Linked DNA regions of Homo sapiens. The protein of the gene in region 1 binds, or shares a complex with, the protein of each later gene. Links are inferred from orthologs where the notes say so. Each region holds a gene or a part of one and is shown on either strand. Other genes may lie near its edges. The genes, in order: KCNJ8 and ABCC9.

Evidence for each region.
Region 2: the proteins of KCNJ8 (region 1) and ABCC9 are in contact, whole or in part, in a cryo-EM structure (PDB 7MIT), measured with the Rattus norvegicus proteins. The link is inferred for Homo sapiens from one-to-one orthologs. Residues at the interface, in NP_058795.3 of Rattus norvegicus: Met1, Leu2, Lys5, Ile7, Ile8, Pro9, Glu11, Tyr12, Val13, Leu14, Ala15, Arg16, Ile17, Ala19, Glu20, Asn21, Leu22, Leu45, Ala46, His47, Lys48, Asn49, Gly54, Arg55, Phe56, Leu57, Asp59, Ile60, Thr62, Thr63; in XP_038963045.1 of Rattus norvegicus: Phe5, Ile10, Tyr13, Asn14, Ile15, Val19, Asn22, Cys24, Phe25, Ala28, Leu29, Val32, Val35, Phe36, Phe39, Phe42, Pro43, Ile44, Phe46, Ile47, Gly48, Trp49, Gly50, Ser51, Lys55, Gln57, Ile58, Asn129, Phe130, Lys132.

The regions. Positions count from the first base shown.
Region 1 is NC_000012.12:21,769,205-21,780,546, forward strand, and holds the start of KCNJ8 (ATP-sensitive inward rectifier potassium channel 8), read right to left. Parts: upstream 5,503-11,342; 5' UTR 5,342-5,502; intron 4,483-5,341; 5' UTR 4,413-4,482; coding exon 4,039-4,412; intron 1-4,038. UniProt on the Homo sapiens protein: Inward rectifier potassium channels are characterized by a greater tendency to allow potassium to flow into the cell rather than out of it.
Region 2 is NC_000012.12:21,929,776-21,940,381, forward strand, and holds part of ABCC9 (ATP-binding cassette sub-family C member 9), read right to left. Parts: intron 8,303-10,606; exon of another isoform or gene 8,243-8,302; intron 6,920-8,242; 5' UTR 6,900-6,919; coding exon 6,758-6,899; intron 4,149-6,757; coding exon 4,007-4,148; intron 1-4,006. UniProt on the Homo sapiens protein: Subunit of ATP-sensitive potassium channels (KATP). Can form cardiac and smooth muscle-type KATP channels with KCNJ11. KCNJ11 forms the channel pore while ABCC9 is required for activation and regulation.

The DNA.
Region 1 (11,342 bases):
ATCTGAAAATCGTAGAGCCCCAAAGTATTATGCTAAATTGACTCTGCCTATGCTCTATAAGTAGAACTATAAAGGCTAGAGGACAGCATATCTGTCTGCAGCATGATTTATTAAATATTTGAAGCCCACTGCTGAGACTTACTGCTCAGAAAAAAAGATTCCTCCAAAATATTATTGCCCATTGACAATGCTCCTAGTCACTCAAGTGCTCTGATGGAGATGTAGAAGGAGTTGATTGCTGTTTTTATGCTTATTAACACAACATCCATTCTACAGCCATGAGTCAGGGAGTAATTTCGACTTTTAAGGCCTATTACTTAAGAAATTTACATTTCATAAGGCTATTGCTGACATAGATAGTGAGTCCTGTGATGGAGCTGGGCAAAGTAAATTTAAAACCATCTGGAAAGGATTCACCATTCTAGATGCCATTAAGAACATTTGTGATTCACGGGAGGAGGTCAGAATATTAACATTAACAGGAGTTGGGAAGAAGTTCATTCTAATTCTCATGAATGAGTTTGAGGGGTTCAATACTTCAGTGGAGGGAGTCACTGCACATGTGGTAGAAATAGCAAGAGAATTAGAATTACAAGGGCATTCTGAAGATGTGACTGAATTGCTGCAATCTCATGATAAAACTTGGATGAATGAGGAGTTGCTTCTTCTGGACAAGCAACCAAAGTGGTTTCTTGAGATGGAATCTACTCTTGGTGAAGATGCTGTGAACACTGTTGAAATGACAACAAAGAATTCAGAAGATTACATAAATTTAGTTGATAAAGCAGTGGCAGGTTTTGAGAAGATTAGCTCCAGTTTTGAAAGAAGTTCTACTGTGGGTAAAATGCTATCAAACAGCATCACACATTACAGATAAATCTTTTGTGAAAAGAAAAGTCAATTGTTGCAGCAAACTCTTCATTGTCATATTTTAAGAAGTTGCCACAGCCACCCCAACCTTGAGCAACCACTACCCAGATCAATCAGCAGCCATCAATATCAAGGCTAGCCCCTCCACCAGCAAAAAGACCACATCTTGCAGAAGGCTCAGATGAACATTAGCATTTTTTAGCATTAAAATATTTTTTGAATTGAGATATGTATATTTTTCAGCCATAATGGTATTACACACTTACTAGATTACAATATAATATAAATGTTTTATATGCACTGGGAAACAAAAGGTTTGTGTAACTGTCTTTATTTTGATATTTGCTTTATTGCAATGGTCTGGAACCAAAACTGCAATATCTCTAAGGTATACCTGTAATTAATATTATACTAACTTGAATTTTCTCACTTTGGCCTAATCCTGTGAAAGAAGCAGAGGGAAGGAACCAAGAAGTTGTAGGATTTTCTTGGGAAGCTTTTTCAAATTGCACATCTACTCCCTATCTTAGTGAATAGACATTGATTTGGTAGGCTGAGGTTGGATCTGGGTAAGATGCTTTTGAAAAGTTCTCAGGGGATTCTGATTTACTCCCATATGGGAAGCACCACATTTGTTACTATCAATTTATAACACTTAATTTCACAACAAGTACTGCTGTGGCTTCTTCATAGAAACAATATTAGTTCTATCTTTGCCCCCAACCACAATTTCAAACTTCTCTAACTTTATAGAAGACAAGCCTACACATTAGCAATCTCTCAAAGTATTACCTATTTATTAATGCTACAGACAGCAGGTGAGAAAAATGTTTAAACATTTGAGTACTTGGTATGTACAGTGCACTTTGGTAGAAAATTATGAGGGATAAGCAAGAATACATGGATTATTCTTTTGATTAGCTTTTAAGTGAAGTGCGAAAGTTGCCTTTCTCTTTTGTTGCTAAAATGATTCATGGAAAACTACAGTAATTGCCTATTGCACTAACTACCCACAAAAAGATATCTGGTATAGCCCCAAAACATGGCAAGAATAAAAATGGACCCCAGAGAAGGGGTATGGATACAACACTGATTTCTGATAATGTATCCATACCTCAGAGAGCAGTCTAATGATAAATATCCCAAATAGTTTGTTTTAATGGTTTAAGAGACTATTCATGAGCCACATTTTGTATATTGTTTATGAATTCTAAATATTACATATGGTACAAGACCCAGCTTTTTACTGACACTTGCTATGCTAAACAATCTCAAGAGATAAAAGTGTTTAGCTGTTTCTTTGTTCTGTTACAGAAAGAGGTAGGCTGGATAATATCGAGAAAGAGGAAATATATTGGTCTATTTTTTGACTCATATTAAATGGAGTCAAAGAGACTCCTTGCAGGAGAAAATACATGGAGGAGAAAATGAGTCACCCTAAGAGAAGAATGGTCAAACATTATTTGGAAATACTGGTGAATATTCAATGAAAAATGTTGTTTCCAATTTTAGTGATATGGTTGGACATTGAATTCACAAAGGGAAAAATGCAAAGAATTAGAATTATTATTAGTCACCTTTTACATTCTCATTGGGAGAGAATGAAGATTTTTAAGGTTTGCTGTTACCATTTCTTTTTTCTCTTTTTATCAGTATCATATAATTTAGATTAAAACTTTATTTTGATATGAAAATGATTCACCAATTATCAGTGCCAGTAAGTTTCTTAAAGATATATATTATAGATAATGATATTTGATCTTAGAGTATCTATTGAACGTTTTAACGGATATTTTAAGTATTGTGTTTTCTTTATATCTGGTATACTGATGATCTATGTTTTCCAGCTGCATTTTCTTTGAGACAACAGTTTGTGAGAAGTTTGAAAAAAGAAAATAATATCTAATCAATATTAAAAGCAATAGATCAATTCAATACAGTTTTTGCTGCTCAGAATTTGAGCTGAAATCTGTGGTGTGTGATCTCTGCGCACTAATGCTGCCTTCCTCCTTGAAAGGCTGGCATTGTAGTTCCTTAGCAAATGGAAGGGTGGACAAGTTCACAGTCTGGGGTCCACTTTCTGCAGTGATATGCTAGCTTAATAAGGTTTCAGGGTCACTAGAGGTCCCATTCTTTACAGTTTCCTGGTATCATAATGCTTTTTCAAGTTTCTTTGCTTTGTGAATTATGTGAATTTAAAATGTTCTTTTAAAAATGTTTTGGAAAATTTTCCAGTATTATTACTACTCTTTTGCTTCACAGTGAACATCTTGGTAATTGATATAATTTATCTCTTTCCACCTCCCCCCGAAAAAAACAAAGAAATCACCTCAACTAAATGTTCTTAAACCATGTGAAAGCAAGAGAGGTGAATCACTGAAATCAATTTACCTGTCTTTGAGATACTTATGATATGAGAAAGAAGCCAAAGTTAGGTAATCTAAGAACTATCTTGTCCCTATTCTATTTAAACTTTGAAAGAAGAGTACAAAATTAAATTGCTTCTATATAACCCCTTCCATAAAATTTTGGACTAATTGTCATTAAAAATTAGCAATTTCTAGTTCTGAATCTTAGCATAACTTTTAATTTCTGAATCCAGTGCAAGCAATCAGCTATGTTATGATAATCTCGATAAAGAAGGGATGATATTTATTTCATTTTTTAGTAGATTTTTAATCTAGGACACTCTCCCCCTAGGGCCTTCCCATTTTTTTCTTATTATTTCTGAAAATGTCATGGGTTAGAAGAGTCAAGAAAAATGTCCACTAGCACAATATTTTTTGTTGATCAGAGATATTTACCTGTGGGCACTGAAACTATGGACAACAGCTTTTTCATACTGAACTCAATGTGTGCGCTTTTGGAGTAAAGCACTCTGTGTAATCCTTTGAATTACAATTTTTTTTTGATAACTGGTATAACATTTTCAAGGCTAGTCCAAAGGACTGAAGCTCAGGTTTTCAGAGACTCTTCTCCATAAAGCTGCATTTAAAAAATACTTACTGTGTTAGGTGTTGTTCTTTATTGTGCTTTTTTGTTTCTGAAGATTCTAAAACAAACCCTTTATTTCACTTTCAATTAAATAACAGAATGATAAGAGAAAGGGCATTTTGACATTTTTTCTCTACTGTTTTCAACCCCTGCCTCATCCCACTACATTCTTACCTGACATTAGTCACACACACAGTGGACTCCAAACCACTTTTCTCCATTCCACTTTTCTCCATGTAAGCATAGATGTCCCCATGGGCAAAGGCCACCAGCCACCACATGATAGCGAAGAGCAGCCAGCTGCAGAGGAAGGACATGGTAAAGATGACCAGCGTGTGGCGCCATTTCAGGTCCACCAAGGTGGTGAAGATGTCCTGTAGAAAGCGTCCTTGCTCACGGATGTTCTTATGCGCCAGGTTGCAGGCCCCGCTCTTGGCGATGAAGCGGGCTTTGGGGAGGCGGTCTCGGATGCGCGGCTTGCGCAGGTTCTCTGCGGCGATGCGCGCCAGCACATACTCCTCCGGGATGATACTCTTTCTGGCCAACATCGTCCTGTCACCATAGCCAGCTTAGCCACCTCCCTCTCACCTGCCTCTCCGTCCCTGGACACCCGTCCTCCTGCACGAGGGAAACATTTATTAAAAACTTAAAAACCCACCCTATCCTCACCTCTTGGGTCCTTGTATTCAAGGATATGTCTGTACATGTGCGAGGTGACATGCAAAACCAAAAATGTGATTTTTACTAACCCAAACATGAATCTAGCTTGTGCTTGAGTTCTGGGATCTCAGAAAAATTACTTGGTTTTAATAAAAAGAACTGTTTCAATTTTTCTTATTCTGAGTACATATGGACATAGCCTTAGTTAAACAAAACCAGGAGCCTTCCGGTAAACAGCAGGCTCAAAGATAATTCTCTGCGATTAACCGCGTCTGTAAATTAGTGCAAGGCTACAGCACGTGGCGTCAGTCATGAAGATTAAGACCAGTTGGGTGCACGATCTACTTATTAAAGTACTTAGATGATGTAGCAATATTAAAAGTAAAGAGAGAAAATTCTTCCTCCGTTATTTTTAGAAGTAAGCAAAGGCCATGACTCCTTGCGCAGTCTAAATAACGTGTAATCTGACAAAATTATAATAAGTGGTGTGCTATAGAATTTATAAGTTATAAGAATTATTTTAAATGCGAAAGAAGTATGAGTTGCATCTAAAAAGAGTTAAAAAGGTTCCTGTGGAAATCATAATATTATAAATTGAAAACTTTTTTTTTTTTTTTTTTTTACAACGAAGGAATCAAATATACAAGGTGCGGGGGGGAAAAAACCCAAGACAACAGCCTGCGGGTTGCAGTAGGGAGTGTGCCCCGAAAAGTCCATCCATCACTGCAAGCCTCTGCGGTGTTTTGCATTTTAAATCATTTACGGGAACACGGACAGCCTCCCCCCTCCGCTCCCCCGGAGCAGCTTTGAAACTTACAGACTCCGGGTAGCGGGCGCGGCGGCTGGACCTCCTTGCACACGCCGGCGGGCCGCGGGCAGGTCCCTCGCTCTCCCATGCTGGCGCGCGGGACCAGGGGCCGCCCAGGCCGGAGGGACAAATTGGGGGCTGCGTGTCCTAAGGAGAAGAGTTAAAATAATAAAAGGTGCAACTGAATCTAAACGCAGGGAGGGCTAGAGGAAGGGGGATGGGTGTAGATCTTCCCCTCCCCCTGCTCAGCTCAACTCCCTTGGCCACTTCAGTGGAAGGAGGAGGGACTGGGGGGGCGGGGGCGGGGGGGCGATGCTCCACAAATCAGCCTCCCAGTTAGGGCTTTGACGCACGCCAGACCTCGGAAGCCGACGTTGTCGCGGAGTAGGGGGCGGGCGGGGAGGGGGCGAGCGCAAGTCCCCGGGAGGTAGGGAGCAGGCCAGAGGGAGGGACGACCCGGGGGAGGGCGGGACCTGCAGAGCCAGCTCCTTTCCAGTAGCCGCGACCCCCTGCCGCCAGCGTGACACACAAGTCTTTAAAAGGCTCTCTGCTCAGGGGAGAGAACTTTCTGACTCCAAGTTCACTGACGTAAGGAGATTTAATTTTAATTTTATTTTGTAATCTAGGTAGATAACTGGGCTACTTCATGATAACTGGGCTACTTCGGACTGAATAAAAGCAGAGAGGTCAGAAAATATTCTTCCAAAGCGTTCAAGCTGTGGGCACACACAATTATTTACATTAAATTTCCACCTGCTAGGAGAGATACAGGTGGAAGATGTTCTGAAACCCACTATAGTAAAGTATTTCTTCACCAGCCAAAGCCAGTTCTCAGGGAATTAAACACACACACACCTCAAAACAGCGACTGCCCCCCACCACCCCCGGCCCCTTAAGGAAAAGAAAGAAAAAAAGAAACCACTGACTGGCTCCCAATGAAGAAATTTTACCCCAAACAGGGACGGCCGTTAACACTTCAGCGCTGATAAGGCCAGGTCATTCGGTCCTCAGTAATTGGTTGCTTTCTGAAATGTTGCAGCTTCTTCCTCTGTCTAGATGGGTCTGAATGATAAAACAGCATTTGCGCACAAAAAAGGTTATACAATAAACATCTATAGCTTTTTGAAAAGGAGCCAGCGAAGACAAATGTGCTTTTTCCCACAGGTCAAGCCTCCTGATTTTGGCACTTGCGTTAATGGAAACTTTAATTCTTGGAAGTTCCACGTATTTTCCAAGACTCGAGCCGAAAGTGTATGGAGCATAAACAATGTATTCATTTAATTAGCCAAAGACCTAAAATTAGTCTTTAATGAAGGCAAATTAAGAACTTTTTTTTTCTCCTTGTGGTTAGATCTCCTTAACCCCTGTAAGCCCAGGATCCTAGTTTGTTAGTGGTAGTCCTCCTTTCTACTGTCATTAATTTTTGCAGTAATTTATGTAGTATAATAGTTTTACAAGTCTATGAAGAATCAGTTTGTATAGTCAATTCCCGCCATTGTTCTATTTTACCTTTGACTTTGTACACATTATTATTCATTATTTTAGCCTGGGGAACATTTACTGAACACCTTTGTAAGCTTTTTTTAGGTTTATGTGTCTAGAGATATATAAATATATGTCATAGTTGTTGCTTTTAAGAGGCAGACAGTTGTAGTAAGAGAGATATTCTCTAATACAAGCAGGGATGTGATTAGAATAGGAAAGGAAATTTTAAAATGTCATGGGAATTCAAATGAGAGATATTTAAGAGTAGGAGACTAAGGAAAAATCCATGGATTATTTGGCATCTGATCTAGGCTTTGTAAGCCTAGATATATTTAGGGTATACAGAAAAGCAGAGAAAAGACAGCCCACGTCAGCATTGATGAAGCCAAGTTGGCTACACAGCAGGATTGGACACTTGAGTTCAGTGCTCCCTGGGCAGGCGCTGTTACCACCTACTCTCAATACTTAATGAGATTTTCATGTACTCGTCACACCCATTCCCACCACTCCTGTACCCCCTCCCTTAAACTGGGGACTGCTAGAGGGCAAGGCTGTGACTTGTTCATCTTTGTAGCAAGGCCCTAGCACCATTTAAATTATAAATGGGCTCAAAAAATATTTTTGAATCAATGAATGAAAAATACAAAGTTGAAAAAGCATATTGGGGCCTTAAAAAATGCATAGACAGCCTTAAATGCTCAACAAAAGAAGCTGAGGAGTCCTCAGTATGTAGTGGTAAGCCATGGAAAGATTTTGATCAGAAAACTACACAATAAGAGCCTGTTTTAAGAGGATTGATCCAGAAGCAGAGAATATAATGGCTTTAAGGGTTGCATTTCTTGAGTATAGTCCCTCTGGGCTCCAAAATTCTGTAACTGGCAGAAGAGGGTGCTGGAAACTGTTACATTAATTAGAGAAGGAATGAGGTCTTGGGCTAATAGGTAACATCAGTGGGCACTATACAAATACATACAAAAGGAATGTTATACAGAGTCAATATTGGAAAAGGGAAAAGTCAGAGGTGACTGTGATGTTTATCATAGTAACAGAAAAATAATAAGAAAATTGGAATGAGAAGAGCTGAAGTACTGTGGAGAATTTATGAGAAGATTTGCAACAAAAAAATCCATATCTGAATTCTCTGAAAATTCTGTTCTTTTGGTATAATACATATTTCAGACTCTTTTTTTTCATTGAGATGTATTCTTCCAAATACGCAATTTTAAATCGTTTCAACTTGCTTTCATAACAGAATGTCATATTTTTATTAGTCAGTAATTTAACTTGATTGATTCAAAATCAGGGCACATAATAAAGATCAAATTTGAAGAAATTAATAAGTAAATGTTTGACAATAGTAGGCCTAAGAACAAATAGTAATCATTTTAAATGGTAAAGAATGTGTGCTATAAGAATATTACAGATATATATTTTTCTTTGTATTCCCTTTCTACATTGTTTCCTTAAGCAGTGTATGTCTTTGTCCTTCAACTAGTTTTTCTGCACTAAGTGGAAGCTGCATGAGAGCACATTGTTTAATATCACCACACACCCAGGGTCTCAAATTGTTCCGAGATCCCAAGAGTAGGTACTCAATAAATACTTGTCAAATGAAAAGAAGTAGGAATAGTGTTCAAAACATGGTATTTCTCTCTCTTGCATTTTCTCTCTCATCTCTCTCTACCCTTCATGGTTTTGCAACTATTTCTCAGAACCCACATAGGAAATGTGAACTTTTGGAATTCACTTTGAAGTCTGTTTCTATAGCTGTCTACAAAAATTTTCTTATTCTCACTTTTCTCTTTACTATATTGCTCTACCTTTAAATCAAGCTTGTCCAACACGTGGCCCGCGAGCTGCATGCAACCCAGGAGAGCTTTGAATGCTGCCCAACACAAATTCGTAAACTTTCTTAAAATTATGAGATTTTTTTGTGATTTTTAGCTTATCAGCTATCGTTAGTGTTATTGTACATTATGTGTGACCCAAGACAATTCTTCTTCCAATATGGCCCAGGGAAGCCAAAAGATTGGACACTCCTGCAAAATTATCCATTTCTCCCTTCTTTAGCAACTTCCCTAACTTCCCTAATTGCTCTAAGTCAGCAATACTTAAACTTGTCTGGCATTTGCTAGCTAAGTTTCTCTTTACAACTTGATTTTAAGCTTAACTGACATATACCTCTATCCCCCAAAAGTCTTTCTGGACACATAGTAACTGCTCAATAAATATTTATTATTGACTGACCTCTAGCTCTCCCTCATATTATGGTCCAAACAGTGAACATTTAAATTTGCCTCTGGCTGAGAAATTGGCAAAAAAAAATCAATTAATTTTCAAGAGCACATTTACTACTTAGGGCTTATTTTATTCATCTGCTTATTCAATCACTATATGCTGTTGTCCACTAAAAGTTAGGTATATTTTCTTAACTGTTCAATAATTTTCTTAATTGTTCTTTCAGGAGTGAAGACTAATTTGCACACTACCAGAGGATATCAGTAATAAGTTTAGAACACAGCTAATTTTATTTACTATTATAATTTTCTTGAGTATGCAGGAATCCTGTTAGAATTTACTCATGTTGCAGAAATTTATGCAATTAAAAAGCAATTAAAAGATTTTGGTTCAGTTGTAAGTCAGCATCTGCCAGGTTCCTTTTAGACCCTATGAGCATTTTTCTTTGGGTTTCTGACATTCTCATTCTCTTAAGAAACAAAGCTTGTCAAGTGCCTTTAGACAAGTAGAGAAAATATTAGGTTGATGCTTTTCCTAATTGTCTGCTGCTTTGATTACCAAATGCAAATCAGTGAAGTTTCTGAAAGTACCCTTGAGAGCAAGGGTGAAATTCTTCCAGTTGTTGACTTTGCCTTTGACATGACTTGTAGACTTCAAACTCTTGGATTTCCTGAGCCATATTAGACTTAAAAATTTGGAGGGTCTTCAAAATGGCAATGGAAACGAGTCATGTTAGCTGAACAAATAATGGTTGGTCTATTTGCTTAGTATGCTGCTTTACTAGTGTCCTCGTATAAACCACTTTGGAACATATTGCTTTGGAATCAACTTAATAAAATTGTTACATAAACTAGTAATCAAAACAGCATGTTATAAACTTACTTTTTTGGAGTTATCATGGAATGGGAATGACAGTATAACTCTTCTCAGTTATTTGTTCCAGTGAATTCGGAGAACATTTCTTTTTGAGATATGTATCTATTTATGTGCAGAAAAGCATCACTCTGTTTTAAATAAGGTCACCCCATTTCTTCTTTGCAAGCTCAGCTCCTCATACTTTAGCAAGCTCACAGGTGTGAATCAGAAAGGTCAGGAAAGGAGGCACTCACAACAATAACTACCCTTTGATTTGCATCTAGGTGAGCAAAACAACATCCCTGCTCCAAGGCATTCTTGGGGAGAAAGCTGTTAGCAAACAAGTAATACATTACATAATTATTAATAGTGGTAAAATATATAAAGAAAATAAATTGAGATAAGGATCAAAAGTAACTAGGGCCAGAGATGACAGTTTTAGATAGGGTTCAAAAAAGACCTCTTTAAAACAGTGACATTTGAATAAAGAATCAACTGTATGATCAACTTGGGAAAGAGTGCTTCAGGCAGCCCAAGAGCAAGTGTAAAAGCTTTGAGGCAGGAAATAGTTTGATGTGCTTGAAGAACAATAAGAAAATCAGTATAGCAGATGGATAAGAGGAAAGGCAGAAGAAGAGCTGGGAAAACTGGGAAGTGCCTTCACTGTTCTCTCCATTTACCCAATGAATAAGGATTGGGAGTCTGCCAGGTAACTAGGTTATGAAAATCACTGACCCTAATCCTTGAGACAGTTGCATGAAAATTAGGTTATTTTTCTCATTTTGCACACGAATTGATTAGAATTTAGCAAAATGACTTTCCAAAGTCACTTACCAAGCAAGTAGAAAGCTATGACAGACTCAGAACATCTGATTCCAAATCCTGTGCTTTTCTTACTAGACAATATCTCAAGGAGATGATTGTCCAACTATGGTCCAGCTGCACGAGAAACACCTGGTAATATGATTTCATGCCCCACCAGACTTCTATTGAGCAAGGATAGAATAAGAAGTATGATCTTTGGCCCAGAAATTAAAATATCTTTAATGAAAAGGTATAAACACTTCTAATAAAATAAAGCACATTTAAAAGTTATCCTGGAGATTCTCTTGCCCAGCCAGGTATTAGAACCTCATAGAATTATTTTTAGGGCAAGATGAGATAATATAAGATGCTTAGGATAGTTCCTGGCCTGTGATAAGTACTTAATAAATATCAACTCATTAATATCTTAGGGCTGGTTTTAGTTTGGTGATGGTCAAGAAGGTCTCAGAGCAGGCTGTGGGGGTAGGAAGGAAAAGCTACAGCTCACAGATTTATTTTATCATTTTATAGACCTGAATATTTTTGAGATCTTACCAACCCTCAGAGTGCTATTATAACTAACCAATACTTGTACTACCGTCTCCTCAACTCTTGAACTTAATTAAGA
Region 2 (10,606 bases), 160 kb from region 1:
TCATTATAAAATTTTAGATATTGTCAATTGGTTTTGTACTGGGTATTAATTTTATATATACATATTTTTTTATTATACTTTAAGTTCTAGGGTACATGTGCACAACATGCAGTTTTGTTACATATGTATACATGTGCCATGTTGGTGTGCTGCACCTATTAACTCGTCATTTACATTAGGTATATCTCCTAATGCTATCCCTCCCCCCTCCCCCTACCTCATGACAGGCCCCAGTGTGTGATATTCCCCTTCCTGTGTCCAAGTGTTCTCATTGTTCAAGTCCCACCTATGAGTGAGAACATGCGGTGTTTGGTTGTCTTTGCAATAGTTTGCTGAGAATGATGTTTCCAGCTTCATCCATGTCCCTACAAAGGACATGAACTCATCCTTTTTTATGGCTGCATAGTATTCCATGGTGTATATGTGCCACATTTTCTTAATCCAGATAAGTGACAGAAAGTTTTGAAAATTATCTTTATTCTACAGGTTATTGATGTCATATTTCTATATAATATGGGACCATAGAATTCTTCTGATATGTATTGTAAAGTTAGGATAATTATAAAAGTGTAACACTGCCCAAGTAGTCAATAAACAGATCTATATAGCACTATAAAAATTCAAATTTTTTTTTACAAATGAGGTTTTCAAAAAAGCAGACCTCTGAAAGGAGGAAGGAAAGAAGTTAAATGATTGGCATACCTGGGGAGGTCATGTTATACACAGATAATCTTAGGTCTCATCTGTAAAACTAAGACAAGATCCTCTCAGCGTAGATAATGTCACAGAATTACAGGCCAGTGGAGCAGAAAGGTGGAATAGGACTCTCCAGCACAAATGAGTTGAAAATTTATGTCTACACAATATGTGCAAACGTGCACAGAAATGTTTATAGCATTTTTTTTGATAATGGCCAAAACTTAGAAGCAATCCAGATGCCCTTCAGTGGGCAAATGGATAAATAAATGGTGGTATATACAGACAATAGAATATCATTCAGCACTAAAATGAAATGATCTATTTGGCCATGAAAAAACTTAAAGGCACCTTAAATGCAGATTACTATGAAATTATATGGGATATATACTGTGGGGTTTTGATAGCAGGGAAGATTGGGCATATGTGGGGGAAAGATGTATATAGGGAATCTCTCTATTTTCTACTCAATTTTGCTGTAAACCTAAAACTGCTCTAGAAAAATTAGTTCATATTTTTTAAAGTACCTGAGTTCAGAAAATGTAAGCTTTATTTGCTAAAAATATAGAAGCACATTTAAATTTAAAAATTAAATTGAGCTATGATATGGTTTGGCTGTGTTCCCACCCTAAATCTCACCTTGAATTGTAATCCGAATTGTAATCCCCATGTGTTGGGGGAGGGACCTCATGGGAGGTGATTAGATAATGGCAACAATTCCCTCATGCTGTTCTCAACATTATCAGTGAGTTCTCACGAGATCTGATGGTTTTTTAAGGGTCTTTTTCCCCTTTGCTCTGCACTTCTCTCTCCTGCCACCATATGAAGAAGGAATTGTTTGCTTCCCTTTCTGCCATGATTGTAAGTTTCCTAAGGTCTCCCCAGCCATGTGGAATTATGAGTCAATTAAACCTTTTTACTTTATTAAAAAAAAAAAAGAAGTAACTAGAAGATGATGTTTCGAAAAGCCTGAATAAAAAGGGTAAGGAGAAGTCTATACCTAAAGAGTAGAAGAGCATAACACAGAATCAAGGCTGTATTTTTACCTGTTTTTAGGACCTCTTTTATCATGACCACTACAAACAAGTTTCTACCATTAGGATATATCATTATTATTGTGAGTTCAATCTGTGTTTTGTGAGGACCTGACTGAATCTACATATCAACCAGAGGAGTCTTCTTGTCCACATGATGTCAAGTTTCAAAAAAATATTGGATGATCTATCTTCTACTTTATACATACGCATATAAACAGATACAGTAGCCTAAATGCTACTGTATAAAAATTAAGCCTAGAATTGGCTATGCTAGTATAAATAAATATACCAGCATTTTAAACAGTTACCAACAAGATAATATCCAATTAAGCTTCTAAATGTCTGGAGGGATGGCATCTATTAGAGTCTCTAATTTTTCTTTTTATCAGAAATTAAGACATGCACATACCTGCGAAAAGCCCTCATAAAACATTACAAAATAGTTGGTTCCATGACAAATGCTTAGAAGTTTCATTCCTTGTTAATTGCAACAGAAAACACAAACAGATGTCAGGGAGGTTCCAGTTCAATAAGAAGAAAATAAATTTTAGACTTTCCTATCAAAAAATTTAAAGGTCTTCTAATATTAGCTCCTCAATGAAAGTTACACCATTTAGCATAATTTCATAATCAAAATTTACCTATTCTTGAGTTTATTTTGTTACTATATGAGAAAAATATTTTCACCAGATTATGTTCAAGTTTATAAATATAATTCATTATATTTTAACTGTCTAATGAAACATCTTATTTTATAAAAATAACAAAATTCCTTTAAAAATATGGGTTTTTAAAACTATAAAACCCTGGAAGACAACCTAAGCAATACCATTCAGGACATAGGTATGAGCAAAGATTCCATGACAAAGATGCCAAAAACAATTGCAACAAAAGCAAAAATTGACAAATTGCATCTAATTAAACTAAAGAGCTCCTGCACAGCAAAAGAAACTATCAACAGAGTAAAAAGACAACCTACAAAATGGAAGAAAATTTTTGCAAACTATGCATCCAACAAAGATGTAATATCCAGCATCTATAAGGAACTTACACAAATTTACAAGAAAAAAACAAACAACCTCATAAAAAAGTGGGCAAAGGACATGAACAGACACATGTATGGAAAAAAGCTCAACATCCTTGATCATTAGAGAAATGCAAATATAAACCACAATGAAATACCATCTCATACCAGTCAAACGGCTACAATTAAGAAGTCAAAAATAACAGATGCTGGTGAGGCTGTGGAGAAAATAGAATACTTATGCACCATTTGTTGGAGTGTAAATTAGTTTAGCCATTGTAGAAGACAGCGTGGTGATTCCTCAAAGACCAAAAAACAGAAATACCATTTGACACAGCAATCCCATTATTGGGTAATGGGAATATAAATCATTCTATTATAAAGACACAAGCATGCATGCATATGTTCATTGCAGCACTATTCACAATAGCAAAGACATGGAATCAACCTAAATGTCCATCAATGATAGACTGGATAAAGAAAATGTGGTACATATACACTATGGAATACTATGCAGCCAGAAAAAAACAAGATAATTTCCTTTGCAGGGACATGGATGGAGCTGGAGGCCATTATTCTTAGCAAACTAACAGGAATAGAAAACCAAATACCACATGTTCTCACTTGGTAAATGATGAGAACACATGGACACACAGAGGGAAACAACACACACTGGGGCTTTTGCTTTTCAGAGGGTGGAGGGTAGGAGGAGGGAGAGGATCAGGAAAAACAACTAATGGGTACTAGGATTAATACCAGGGTGATGAAATAATCTGTACAACAAACCTCCGTGACTCAAGTTTACCTGCATAATAAACACGCACTTGTACCCCTGAACTTAAAATAAAAGTTTAAAAAATTGGTTTTATTACAAATCTTGATTTTAAAAGTTTTGTGGTTTGCATCAATTTATGGCTCTATCCTCACTGATTCTCAGACTCATTCATCCTGACTCATCTATCTTTGCTTCTTTACAAAATAAATGGAAAAATCTGAGAAATAATTAATATATTAACATAAGTATATAGCTATTAGACCTATGTGTAAATGTAGACAATCTTTCCATTTATACCTATTTTTAACATTAAAAAGTTCAAAAAGACATAAGAACTTCCTGCAAGAGCTACATGGATCAGAGAGCAAAAAATATAAAGCACATTTATGGGCACAAGTTACAAAGATGTGAACTTGTGTAATCAATATACCCACTGGTATACTGCAGTGGTATTATTTAACTTAGATCACTTACGAGTCTGAAACAATGCCTTCTGCTATTTCACAGACATGCACAAACAGGAGAGCGAATGTAAGAATCCATCTCAGGTTATGTCCCGGAAAATGAAGCCATGTGTTGTGGTGAATTTGTACTTTTGAGCTTTGGCTCCCCCACCCTGGAAAAGAGAGAAAAGTTAAAAACAAAAAGACATAAACCGAAGGCTCAATTGTAATAAACATAATTTAAATTATGATAAGCTTTAAGGCAGGGGTGGGGGGGTCCTGAAACCTTAAAACTTTCTAGAGTAGCAATGGAAATCCTAGTCTATTTTCATTATTCAAAAGAATTACAATTAACTTTTACAAGACTACTCAGGCTAACACATTAACATTTGTGGCATTACTCAGGAATAATACCAACTCTGGATGACAACATGGTTCTACCTCATGCTAATCAGAAGCTCTTCCTGACAGCTTTCTGATTAATTCAAAAGGAAATAAGTTGATGATAATAATACATGAAATTTGGTGTAGAAAATCTTTGAAGACATGAAATCTACAAGGGGCTAAATCAAGAAAAGACATATTTGGTTACAAAATACAGGACTCATTAGCTGAGTCAACTCTTAATCATATGCACATCATATGAGAAAAATTGTTATGTATGACTAGGCAGGCACTATTATTCAACAAGTAGTACTGATACTTTTCTCAAAGAAAGCTAAATTTCTTGATGATGAGCTTTTAAGCAAGCTCAAAACCATTATAGGTCCACCGTTAGCTTGCCACTGAAGAAAAAAATTCAAGGTTGTATGTTAGTAAAATTCTGATCGTTTTCTCCCTAAAGTACTATACAGTTTAGTTACTACGTAGAGTAATACTAGGTCATGTAGAGTAATACTAGGTCATGTAGAGTAATACTAGGTCATATGTGGTGTGCTAGTAGGCCCCACTTTTGTCTTGTTTTGTTCTTTTTTCTCATTTTTTGACTGTAGAAAAAAAGCCCCACCTACTTCAAGAACAAATGGGGGTTTGGGCTTGAAATACTGCAGGAAAGAATTTCTGTATAGGCAGCAGATGCCCCTTTTATTTGAAATGAATATTCATGTCTTAGTTGTTTTCAATTTATTCATCATTGGAAGATTAGTTATATTTAATATATTCTACTAGAACTTATGCTGTAAACTCCCATAGGCAAGTTCTATGTCTTTTTTTGCAACCTTATGATTTTCCTAGTACCTGATAGTTTTTAAGATTGATTTATGATCCTTCACTAATTCAAGCAGCCAATGTCATAAATGAAAAGTCTGAATTTTTTCTATTTCCCTTTAACAATGTCCCCTCAAATTCTCTTCTATTCAAATACCCTGGTGCCAGCCTCTTTGCTGGATGCTAGGGATACAAAATGGAATGTCCCTGTTCTTGCTCTCAAAAAGTTAACCAGATGTCAATAACTGGGGAATTATTAATTGTGGAATTACAGTTAAAAAATCCATTTTTCTACTTTTGGCCAAAGGGCGTTCTTCATGGCCTACAAATAATACTACATAAACAAAGACTGATGTTTCTACATATGGCCATTCTGGTCTCAATATATTTAGCATCTGTACATTTGTTCAACATAACTATGTACCAAGAATTATGTTGGCCTGTGTATATACCATATGATGAGTTCTTTAATCCCCCTTAGAATAATGCCAAGCACATAGTATCCTCTCAATTGATATTTGTTAAATGAATAAATAAAAGTGTATGAATGATTTTCAAACATTCCCTTAAAGTAGATCATTAAATTTTGCTAGTTTTCTTAAGAAAATGCATCTGAAAACTTTTTCACTTATTTAATTGGAAAGATACCATACATGAAAAAATTGAACACAATCAACTCAAAATAGTGGTTGTCTCCTGTGAAAAGATAGGAACGTAGGATATGGAAAGAGTCACAAGACCAGGAAATGGTGTGCAGAGAGAGGTCCTTTCATTCTTATTTCTATATTCTTTAGATGAGCGTTGGTAGGCTCAATGGATATTTATTATATTAATGTCCATCATTTTAGGTATCAAAATACTTCATAATTTTAAAAAAGTTAAAGGGTCTGTTTGGGTAAGTTATACAAATTATTCATAATTGCCCCTAATTATCAGATTTTATACATATGTAAACTGTAAAATAATAGACAAAACTGTATTGTTAACTTCTTCCCAAATTCTTTGTGAATGTCCTCTTTCTACATAAAACACAACCTCATCACTCCCACTGTAACTTGCATGCTTGGCATCTTCCAGTTCCCCAGACATGTCACTCACTATCTTCCCCACCACCTCCAAAGAGTGAGTTGTTTCAGCAGGTTAATTTGTTCCTGTGCTTGTAAATAGGCTTACAATGTGGCATAGTCATTTCTCATGACTTTAACACATCTGCCCCACTGGACTATTCCCTGAAGGCAAGTACTCTTTTATTCATTTTCCATTCCCTTTACCTAACCCAAAGTAAGTGCTCAACTAATGCTGTAGATCTATCTCATATATTTCTCTTTCCTTCTTTTTAAAAAACTGCTGCTGCTACCTGAAGGCCATGCCTAAGCAAGCATGTGACCTCAATTTCACCTACGGAAGATCACCTGTCAAAAATATATGTTTGAAAAACACAAAATACTTGCTTGTTCGTTTCTCACAGCCATCAGCTTCCATGTTACAGAAATTAAGTCAACATTATCCCAAATCTCAGCCATTAGCGAGATATATAAACATCAAATGGTATAACATAAGATACTAGATTACTTACCAATAAACAATATTGGAAAAGTGATAAACAACAGAAAGACATGAGGGACCAGGTTGAGGGCATCCACAAAGCAGGAATTTTGTAGTACACCATCGTTGATATTATATGAAGAAATGTTGTTACCACAAAATGAAAGGCTCATTTCTTCTTATATGGTTTACTCTAAAAGGGAGAGAAATGAGAAAGAAAAATCCTCTTATTAGTAAACTCTTGTTCATAAAATTATTAAAGCCTTGAATAGAGGGCTATATCATAAAATTAATCCCTTTTACTTTGATAGCTGAGGAAATAAGAAACTCTGTGCCAAAGCAACTTGAAGCTTTCTTATAAAATACGTCCTATGAGATCTTCTTTTCCATAGCTTTTACTTCCAGAGAAAAATGCTTTCATGTGGAAAATGTATTATAATTAATATCTACCTATAGTAGTACCTCAAATGAGTGTCTGACTAAAATGCTTTCAAAGAACAAAAATGGTCATATATTAAGAAAAAGGAGAAAAAAAATTGAACCAATGACTAAAAAGTCAAAATGGTATAATTTCAAATATTTTCCCATACTCACTGAAAATGTACTAATAAACAACAAAAGTTGTTCAGTAAACTGTGACAGAGTTTGCTGAAACATTTCACTAGTTGTGGGAAATACTAATATACAGAAACAAGTGTGCCTGCAGTAATGGCTAACAGTAATCAGTCTTTCCCTGAAGAATATTAAAAATCAAATGCTCAAGATGAATTAAACCTAACTCAAATGACAAGTCAACGAAACTACTCAGATTCCATAGTTAGAATATTCTCACAAGAAATACACTCTACGCAAGTTTGAAACGCAGGATGTCTTTTAACTGGAAATTGGTACTCCATGAGTAGAAGTAGATGAGTTTAGAGAGGAAACAGAGGACAAGGTCACACTGTGCTTTGTAAGTCATTGTCAGGATTGCGGCTTCTACTCTTAGTGAAGTGGGCCACTGGGGATTCCGGGGCAGAGGAGTGACGTGCTCTCACTTACATGTTAAATGGTTCTCTATTAATGCTGTGCCCAAACAGATGGGAGATGAGCAAAGGTCTGCTCCATGAAAATACTGCTGTGAAATTCCAGGAAAAGCTTTGACATTCTGAAAACTTATTTTATAATGCCTACTACTTATTTAAGTTCTGGGCACTTTGCATATCTTAAATCCTCAGAACAACCTTGTAATTCATCTTTTACAATGGAGGATACTGAGGTCCAGATAAGTTCAGTAACTTGCCAACCAGTAAAGCGGTCATGTCCACACCCAAATATCTGACTTATAAACTATTTCTTTCCACCGTATTACACAACCTCCAACCTGCTTTTTAAAGAAGCTATCGTATCTATTCTTTAAAACAAGTAGCAGTTTAAGATTTTAACCTCACTAGACCTAGTTTCTATATTTATGTCACAATGGATTCTGAGTTGCATTACAAAAGGCTGGCAAAAATTTTATTAACTAGCATAGTACCTTTTCTTTCTTTCCTTTCATTGATAATTGATTTAGCAATGGTCACAAACAATACTTTTCCTAGGAAAAAACAGTGTTATACAGAAAAGATTGTCAATGGTAGGTAAATTATTAGAGAAATCAAATTTCAAGCAAAGGTTTTATAAAGCATTATATGAATGCCTCAGCTAAAGAGTCTGTGTATTTACAATCTTAGATACTTATACAGAATGCCTCTCACATATTGTTCCTGATAAGCTCTTTTTATAATAAATAGTTGATATGCTCTCTAGTTGAGTCTTTCCCTCATCTTTTTTTAAAAAGTTGTATTTTTAAAACCTCAAGGTGAAGTTATACACTGGGTAAATTCTAACAAGCTATTAAGGTATTAATCTGGATAAAAGAATAAAAGGGACTTGAAGTTTTTAAAAAACAGCAAAATGGAAGTTATTAATTTATAGGTGTATGTTAGATGTATTTCTGGCAAAGACAGACAAAAACAAAACTAAAAACTAATAGCTAGTAATGAATTTTTTAGACTACTTCCTTTATTTAGTAGAAATGATAAAAAGAAAACTTAAAGCCCACTCTTAATTGAAAGACATATATAAACTTTCCTCGCACAAACTAGAAAATGATTTTTACTTTAGCAACTTTTATAATCTTATCCAAAATTATAATATTCCAGTTGGCCACATTTATAAACTAGTATCATTGAGGTAGATGCTAAAATATAACCTGCTGCTTTGCAAATTACACCCTTCATTAGCTATAAGCATTGCTTGCCTGGTGTTTAATCAATCCTGAAATCTACCAATTAAATCGCCTTTGGATAAATGTTGTGTGTAACTGGAAAAAAAATCTCAGAGAAGTACAATCACCTGAAAAATTTAAGAACATTTTCAGACATACACCAGATATCTGGAATTCTATGCCATTAACTAATGAACTGTAAAAACACTTATTGATGCTAACTACGTGCTAGTTACTAGGAATCCAATGGTGCACGTCAGAAACAGTTTCTGTGGTTTTATTTAGACTGTATGAATCAGATTACAGTAGTCTCAGTAGCTGTGGGTATATTGTAGGGGTATATGATCTAAAAGATAGGAAAATAAGAAATGATGCAATCAAACAAAAGTGTAAACTTCAAGTTGGTACAGTAAACGCTTTAGAACGATTTTTCTGTCTGCCATAAACTCTAACTTCACATTTCCGGCCGGCTCTGAACCTGTGCATTACCTTACCGCATGTCTCCTTTCACCTTTTCTTTTGACTCCTCATTTATCCTTTCCCTTTAACCCGTAGTCTCCTTATCCAACATCCAGAGTCCATGTGGCACTCTAACAGCCAGCCTCCATTACAACCCAACATGGACAAAAAGAGGGAGGCAGTAAACTTATTGCTGATATATTGATAATTATTGTGTTTATCAAAGGCATTTTATTCAATCCACGTTCCTAATCCTTAAATTTCCAATTGTCATTTAATGTTTCCCTCCCAGACACCAGGTTCAATTGGGAATGTTTGGGGAAGGGTATAAATCGCTGTTCTTGCTGGCTAAACTCTGTCACCTGACATCCTTCAGCTCCACCCCTTCTGGAGCTGTTTAGATTCAGCTAAGCACTGAGGGAGGCCCAAGCATCAAGGAGAGAGAGAGAAGGGAGAGCAGATGGGGAGATATAATGTTTCCCTTTCCACAAGCATAAGCCATCGAAATATGCTCAGTTGTTTATGAGAGGTGATAGAGTTGGAGAACTTGACTGAATAAACTTTAAAAACAAAGATCAAAGTGAAATTTTGCTTCTAACGTATGTCTATGGAGCAGAAAACATAAAATAGAAATACTCCTAATTATCTAACTTACGATTTCATGGCAAGAATCGCACCCTCAGTGTTTTTATTCCTCGAAATGCATTACATGAAATTCCACACATCTAGAACATATACATTTTGGATTTAGTTGGTGAATATAATACCTGACCTATCCAGTCTGTTGGTTCCTCTGCAAGACACGAGCAGTAGTTATCTGATTTAATTCTAAAAACACATTTAAGTGCTGAGGCATATAAGGTACACCATTTATTGTGGCCAGCCCTGTCCTTTGGAAATAGACTACAAGTAAAGCAAGTGAAAACTTGTCTTCCTTCCTGTTCACTTAGCAGAAAGCGTTAGTTCTGATCGAATAGCAATTGCAGAGAGTTTAAAATGCTGGAAACACCTGGAGAAAACATGCTAAATTTAAATAAAAGTTTTCATTCTTACATATAAAAGGATTCATTCTTTAATCGTTTAGAGATTAACCAAATTCTGTTATGAAAGAGAAGCAGGACATTTTAAAGAACTTAGGGCTTTATCATCATCTAGAGCATTTTCAGGATGGAT